2 linked regions of the Homo sapiens genome follow. The protein of the gene in region 1 purifies or fractionates together with the protein of each later gene. This does not show direct contact. Each region holds a gene or a part of one and is shown in the gene's direction. Other genes may lie near its edges.

Region 1 (3,853 bases):
CCTTTCTAGACACGCTGTATAATGGAGTATTAGAAAACCAGTTTCACAGCCCTGAATATCTTGGTTTGAATCCCAGTTCTGCGTCTTGCCTGAGTCTCCCTTTCCTCAGAAGGAATGTAGGTAGTAATGGTATATTATTCATGGGGTCACAAGGATTAAATGAAATAACCTGTGCCCAGGTGTTAGCACCATGCTTGGCACAAATTAGTGCATACTGCCTATGACCTATTTGTATTAAACTATTATCATCTAAGATGAAACTATAAACTTTAATTGCATGTATTATAATACTGCAAGATTTGGTTTAAAGGTCCCCTTTAGTTTTTACTTCTTGGCATGTCATGTCTCCAAATTCATTCAATAGATGTCATTTAAGAGTCATTTGACCAGAACCAGAAACCAATTTTCCTGAAATGTATGACATTTGCTCACTGCTTATTAGGCCCAAAATGAAAGAAGCAATTCTGGAAAAATCAAAGAAAATGTCTGCCTCTCTGAGATACCAAACCTAATTTTATAATTCACATACCTGGGACAGAACTTCAACCCAGTACCTTGTCAGACTTCAGCTTCAACATGTCCAGTGTCTTCACTCTGTCTGTGGCTGCGCTGACTGAAACCCTGAGAAACTGACCAGGTGAATGCATGATCATACAAATGACTTCAGTGCACAACGTGCATGAAATTGGGAATTAACCTCATCAGTTACTCTAGATTTAGCATTAATTTTTGAATCCAAAGGGTGTTTCATTTAATTGCTCAATAAAAATGTCACTACCTCCAATTAAACTATTGGGAAACTCTCAAATCCTGATCTACTACATAGGTTAAACTTTCCTTTTCTTTGGTCAATTCTGAGCTTCATTCTGTACCAAATAACTTCTCAAATTTCCGATTCCTGAAGCTTGGTAACTAATGGTTGAATTTTGGGGGATGTGTTCTTTAATATTTTGTAATTTCTCATATCTTCCTCTGTAAGTGCAACTGGTCCCGACACTAGTATATCTCTCCAAAAGTGTGTATGTGTCACTGTCATAAAAATGTCACAGATTTTTAAGATTGGATTTTTTTCTTAATCTTCACAATATGTTTCTCCTTTTTGTTGCAAGAATACTCTGTGCATAATTCTACCACGGTCCTTAATACATTATGCTGTGATATTTGGTTCACTTATCTGCCTCCTTCCACCCCTCCTTAAACTGTAAGTCTCTGAAAGGTTAAGGACTAGGTCATCGTCATCACAGTACTTTCAATGCCTAGCACAGTTCATGGCAGTAGTTAATGCTCAATAAGTGTTTCTTGAAAGAACAAATCAATCATATCTATAGTATATTTCTTAGTGTCCAGTTTGACCTAAAAAGGGTAAATGCCCACATGGTCAAAAAAATCATACACCTCAGAAATACAGTGCTGCAGGGAATTATTTTATAATAATTAAGCCCTGGATCTGCCATGGGCTCACTAAACTCTCATTCACCTGTCCTCTCACCTCTTCTCTTTATATTCCCAGGCCCACATCAGATGCTCTTTCAGAATGTTTCTCTCTCCCTTCCTCTCTGCTGTCTGCCCACAGCCACTACCCTATTTTTCTAAAGCACATGGTGGGACCTTCCATTCAAAGCTGACTTTGAGTTTGACAGTTCAGACAGCAAATGCCTAAACCCCCTCCTCATCAAAGCCCGGGTGACAGATGATCCTGGGTGAGAATTTCAGCTCTGGAGAGGGGAGGAAATGAATAAGCAGTCAAATGTCAAGTCTGCTGACTTCTTAGGAAAGAAAGAGAAGATACTTATAATACTGGACAGGAGGGCTTTGGCTTACATTTGCCAGCATTATACTAAATAGGGAAAATGTCAGCTGAGTCCCACATGTAGATTCCTTGTCATCTTGGTGTTTTCCTGAGTGTAAAATTAAAACTCCAAAAGATTCTGGACATCAGAGCTCATTTTCAGTTTTCAACAAATCTATCTGATGAGAAAAAAAATAGGCAAGTAGTAAAATATGCAACTAAAATTTTAAAGTCTAATTTTTAGCCAGATAATTAGGTTGCAAACTCATTGAAAGCAGCAACGATGTTTTTTATAAATCTCAGGTGACTAGAACTATATTAAGTATATACAATAGGTTTTTTAAAAACAACCTCTTGATTAATATATGCCCTCCTCCTTACCCTGTCCCCTGAGGTAAAGCCATATTAGGGAAATCAAGTAAATGCCTTATCTTTATTTACCAGACTGCTTGACTGGGGATTTAGGGTTCCAGAAACCACACAAGTTTTAATTCCACAGAATCCCCTTTGCACACCATGGTGTAGAGAGGGCTCTTATAGAAGGGGAAGGAAAGAGCAGCTTGTGAGTTCTGATGCTGCCCGTTTGTTTGTAGAATCCTATCACTCACAGGCATTTCTATGATTGGAAATCATTTACAAAATTAGTCCACATAGGATTCTTACTAAAGAGGATTCAATTTGGGAATTTCTCGAAATAAAGCCCTTACTACACTATGTGTGTCTGGGAATGTCACTGACATAGTTCAGGACTTCATAAATAATGAGTTTGGTTTTGTAAGACGTTTGAAGTCTTTTCCTCATTGGATTTTTCACTGGAAAGCTGGTAAAGGTCAAGCACCTGACTCCATAACTCATCCACAAAGGTAAAATATCTCTCAAAGTAAAACTCTGAGAAAGTTAAAAATAGCCAGCAATTCAAATGCAAATCTAGAATCTTTCTTGCTTTGCATCAGATGCAGAGAATCATTCCGGACATGCTGCATAAGGCACTTTATGAGAAGGATAGAGAAGCAGTTGGTAAATCTTGCTCGTGAGATAATTCTTGAATGTCTTGAGTTTGGTTTTGCATAAACATCTGAAAATTTTAGACTATATGAAGAATGTATAGTCCCATCAAATTGAACTAAAACTCCTACAGAGGGATTCTATTTCTGTAGAAATTCTGGAACTATTGGTTGTCTCTGGATTGTTTGTTTGTTTCCTACTATATTTCAAATGAGGAAATTAGAAGGGGGAAAAGAAACCTGACATCCAGAAGAAAATAATACCTAATTTTAGAGGCCACATTTTCATCGCATTTTGACAGGATTGGTCCCATTTCTCCCTCTCTGTGAAGATGATCATTCACTGGTTTAACTTTGCTTCATGGTGGTTTTATCTGTGTGGTGCTTGGGAACAGCCATGTGAGGCTCTCTGTGTAGATAACTCAAGGTAACTGTTTGCTTTGAAAACATAAAAATAGAACAGCACAGGACTCATTTCTCTGTTGGAATGAATCAAAAGAAAAGTTGACAGAGAAATAAAGTTTATGTACAAAGGAGAAGGAAGGTTTAGATAACATATACCCAAATATGAGAAAATTTTTGTAGATATAGAAAATATAACAATAGAACTGGTACAAAGAAAACTGGCTAGAGAATGTCTATAACAATCTGCTTCTCAGTCTTCTAGGTCTATTTCCCCATTGACACGTGGATTTAGTGTTTGCTGAACTGAAAGTGAAAAAAACTGGTATAAAGAAAACAAATGTGCTCTGATTTACATGCCTAAATGAAGAAAGCTATCTTTTTTCATATAAGCATATAAAGTTGTAATTTTGATTTCAGGCACATGATGGTGTTTAAGTACATTTATTGCAGCTTGTATTCTAGTGAGAAGTAATAAGAAAATTAATAAACAAGATAAAAAGGAAGCTACTTACTTCACCACAACCTATGAACGTCCTAAGGTGTCTACACGTTTTAAAAATTCATTCTCCATCCTACTACCCTTTAAATTATAGCCTGTTACAGGGAGTAAGTGGGGACTGTGCCCTGACAGAGTGTCAATGTGTCTGGAGAGCAA
Region 2 (3,500 bases), on another chromosome or scaffold:
GCTGGGACTACAGGCATGTACCACCATGCCCAGCTAATTTTTGTGTTTTTAGGAGAGACGGGGTTTCACCATATTGGCCAGGATGGCCTCGATGTCTTGACCTTGTGATCCACCTGCCTTGGCCTCCCAAAGTGCCGGGATTACAGGCATGAGCCACCACCCCTGGCTCGAAATATGATTTTAAGCCCATCCAATTGGCAAATATTTATATACTTTGTAACACCAAATGCTTGCAAGGGTGTGGCACAACAGAGATCCTCCTACACTGCTTATAGGACGATTGTACCTGGCAAACTCCTTTTGCCTACTTGTCCCTGTAGCAGTGATCCCAGAGTGCCCAGGCAATAGCTGTATCTTATAACTCAATGGAGTCTTGCTATATTCCCAGATAAAAGTGTACTGTTTTGGGGACTAGGACCTCTAACTCTACAGAGCCAAGAGTGTGGGAACAAAAGCTACAAAGTCTCCCAATGGGTCCCTGAGATAGTAAATGAAGTCAATCCTGTTTCTCTCCTTTGCTTTCCAAACACGTGTATTATTCATTTGGGGAACATGGTGTGTCCCTACCTTTGGAGTGTTTGATTCAGTGTCCTGGAGTCCGGCACCCACCTGCACAGTTTGTTCACTGAACTGGTGCTGTGGCTGTGCCTTGGGGCTATTCCAGTGCTTTTTCAGGACGGCAGTTCCTGGTGACGTGCAGTAAAATAAAACAGGTGGAAACCAGCTGTGGGCTCACTGCTGCATTTTCCTTGCTGCAAAGTGAGTTGCTTGGTCTGATGGATGTTATTTAGGGGACAGAAGTTGGCCAAGACCCTGAAGGCAGGAAAGTCAAACACGTGCCAAGAATACATGTATGTGAGTGTAAGAACACATCACTGGCCCTTTCAGCATGGAAGGGGCCCGGTGTAATCCTTTGCCACCTTATGGTGGGTTGGTCCTCTCAAGGAGTGGTGCTGTGTGAGGCACTTGGTGACAGTCTCTGTTGCTGGCCATTTGGACATTTGGTGGTGGCAGTAGCTAGGTGGACCTTGGTGAGCGGGTGTGCATGCTGTTGGGCCATGTGTAACCTATCTCTGCCATTGTGGCCAGTTCGTTCCTGCATCCATTACGCAGGTACTAGGGTAGCCAGTGAAGACACTGGCTGGCATCCCCTGGCTGGGCCCCTTTCCATGCTTTGTGGATGAGTGCCTCTTTCATGGTAGATGCCCTCTGGCTGGCATTATCATGTGGTAAAGAGATCTTCATGCTGCATACTCACTCCCACATGTCCACCTATGTCTCTCTACCCCAGATTTCCTAATTCTTCCTCTTCCAGTCTTTGTGTTTCTGGCCTCTGACTAGGCAGCCAAGCCACTTGCTGCTGCCCTTGAGTCCACAGCTGTCCTGAACTTGGGCTATTCTTCCCTCTCTGAAGGAACCAGTTGGGAGGATTTTTCCCTTACCCCTGTCTTTCCTGGCCACTCTAGAGTAAGGCTGCAGTGGAGCTGCCCTGCATTTCCAGCCTGCACCCATATAACAAACCAACCATTCAACACCCCACCCCCCGCACCCCCATCCCCCAAATCGGCCTTTCTCTCTGCCCCCAGCTGGTTTTACAGGATCGCCACACAGCCGTAGGTGCGAAGTGAGGGAGGGAGTTGGTGCAGCCTGGTGGGTGCTGGGGGAGTCTGGCTTCCTATTCGTGCAGCTCACGCGTGCCCTCTGGTCCTGCTTGTGCATGATTCCCGATGTACAACTTCCTCTTTATGATAGACTGTGGCTGTAGCCCCTTGACCTTATAATCTGGTGGGTCTGATGGGACTTACCTTTTGATGGGAAATTTCAGCCACATCATCCCCTAGTGCTCCATGGCTGCCATGGTGTGCACTGTGCAGTGTGCTTCATTATCACCCATGTCATGATCTTGAAGTGCTTTTTCCCATTAAACTAGGCTTCTTGGTGAAATGGTCGATTCTGGGACTGGGGTAGGAAATGTGCAAGGTGAGTCTGGGACATCCTGTCAAACCAGAGAGCAAAGAAGCTATGAGACAACTGAGGAGAAGGAGCCAATTTGAAGAGGGTCTCACTGGCCAAAGATATGACTGCTGAAGCTTACATGAGAGCAGTCATTGAAACGATCAAATATGTTTAAATGAATATGTTTGTGATGATGTTTAAAAAACTCTTCGATTAGCCTGGGAGATAGCAAGTTCGTCATCTTGAAGACACTATGTAAATGGATGAAGCAAGCATTTATCTTCCCTGTCCCATGTGAATTGTACCACTGAGTAACAAAGTAGTAGCTGAGGGGAAGCTTTTCATTATAAGGTATGAAAATGAAGTGATAGAATTAGAAGATCACTATTTTGCAACTCTCCAGGAATTAATACATCTAGGCATTGAGCACCCATCAATGCTAACTAGACATGAAAGAGACAACTAGACATTTTGTGCTTTCTAATCAAAGACCATCCATAGCCCCACCTCTAGTCTTGCCAGAGGATCAAGTCTGAGTCTGATGAAGCCTCTGGATCCAATTGTCAACTTGCAGAAAGTTGTCCTCTGAGGACGGTTGTGTGAATTGAATTGCACCATGAGAACACAGTCCTCAGAATCCACAGTGTGAGAAACTGAACAGGTCAAGTAGACTGTGATCTTCAAGGGATAAGGTCAAAGGAAAAGAATGGAGACAATGTGTTGATTAAAATGACTTAAAGACAGCCGGATGTGGTGGCTCACGCCTGTAATCCCAGCACTTTGGGAGGCGGAGGGGGGCAGATCACCTGAGGTCAGGAGTTCGAGACCAGCCTGGCCAACATGGCGAAACCCCATCTCTACTAAAAACACAGAATTAGCCGGGCATGGTAGTACGCGCTTGTAATCTCAGCTACTAGGGAGGGTGCGGCAGAAGAATTGCTTGAACCCGGGAGGTGGAGGTTGCAGTGAGCCGAGATTGCGCCACTGAACTCCAGCCTGGGTGACAGAGGGAGACTCCATCTCAAAAAAAAAAAAAGAACTTAAAGACGTATCAAATTTAAAAAAATGAGCAAGACTATAATGTCAGGGGTGGACACTTAGATGATAAAGTGTAAGAAACATAGGAAGTGATTACTGTGAAAGTCAGATAACGGTTGCTTTTTGGGCTATAAGGTTTCTGTTGGGATTGGAGTGTAGCACACAGGGAGGCATGTCTAGGGTAGATGGCAAACTTCTGATTCTTGACCCAGGTGGTGGTTGTAAGGGTGTTTGCCTAATAACAGTGCATTGAAATATATGTTTGTTTTGTGTGGTTTTTTTGCATCAGTTTTGTTTTATAACAAAAGGCTAAAAATAAGTATTTAAAGAAAATAGTGCATACTATATTTTATTTGCTGATATTCATAATGATCACCAGATTATTGAAATTTATGAGTAATTTTGCTATAAATAAGCCTGTTTTCTTTGTTTAAACACACACACACACATTTTCACACTCACACCTTCAAAGCCACATAATAGAATGTTTAGCTTAAACCTGCAGC

What was found.
Region 2: the proteins of KCNMB2 (region 1) and MSRA purify together in Homo sapiens (affinity purification with mass spectrometry; one large-scale study listed by BioGRID and IntAct). This does not show direct contact.

The regions. Positions count from the first base shown.
Region 1 is NC_000003.12:178,542,791-178,546,643, forward strand, and holds part of KCNMB2 (calcium-activated potassium channel subunit beta-2), read left to right. Parts: intron 1-3,853. UniProt on the Homo sapiens protein: Regulatory subunit of the calcium activated potassium KCNMA1 (maxiK) channel. Modulates the calcium sensitivity and gating kinetics of KCNMA1, thereby contributing to KCNMA1 channel diversity.
Region 2 is NC_000008.11:10,239,292-10,242,791, forward strand, and holds part of MSRA (mitochondrial peptide methionine sulfoxide reductase isoform a precursor), read left to right. Parts: intron 1-3,500. UniProt on the Homo sapiens protein: Has an important function as a repair enzyme for proteins that have been inactivated by oxidation. Catalyzes the reversible oxidation-reduction of methionine sulfoxide in proteins to methionine.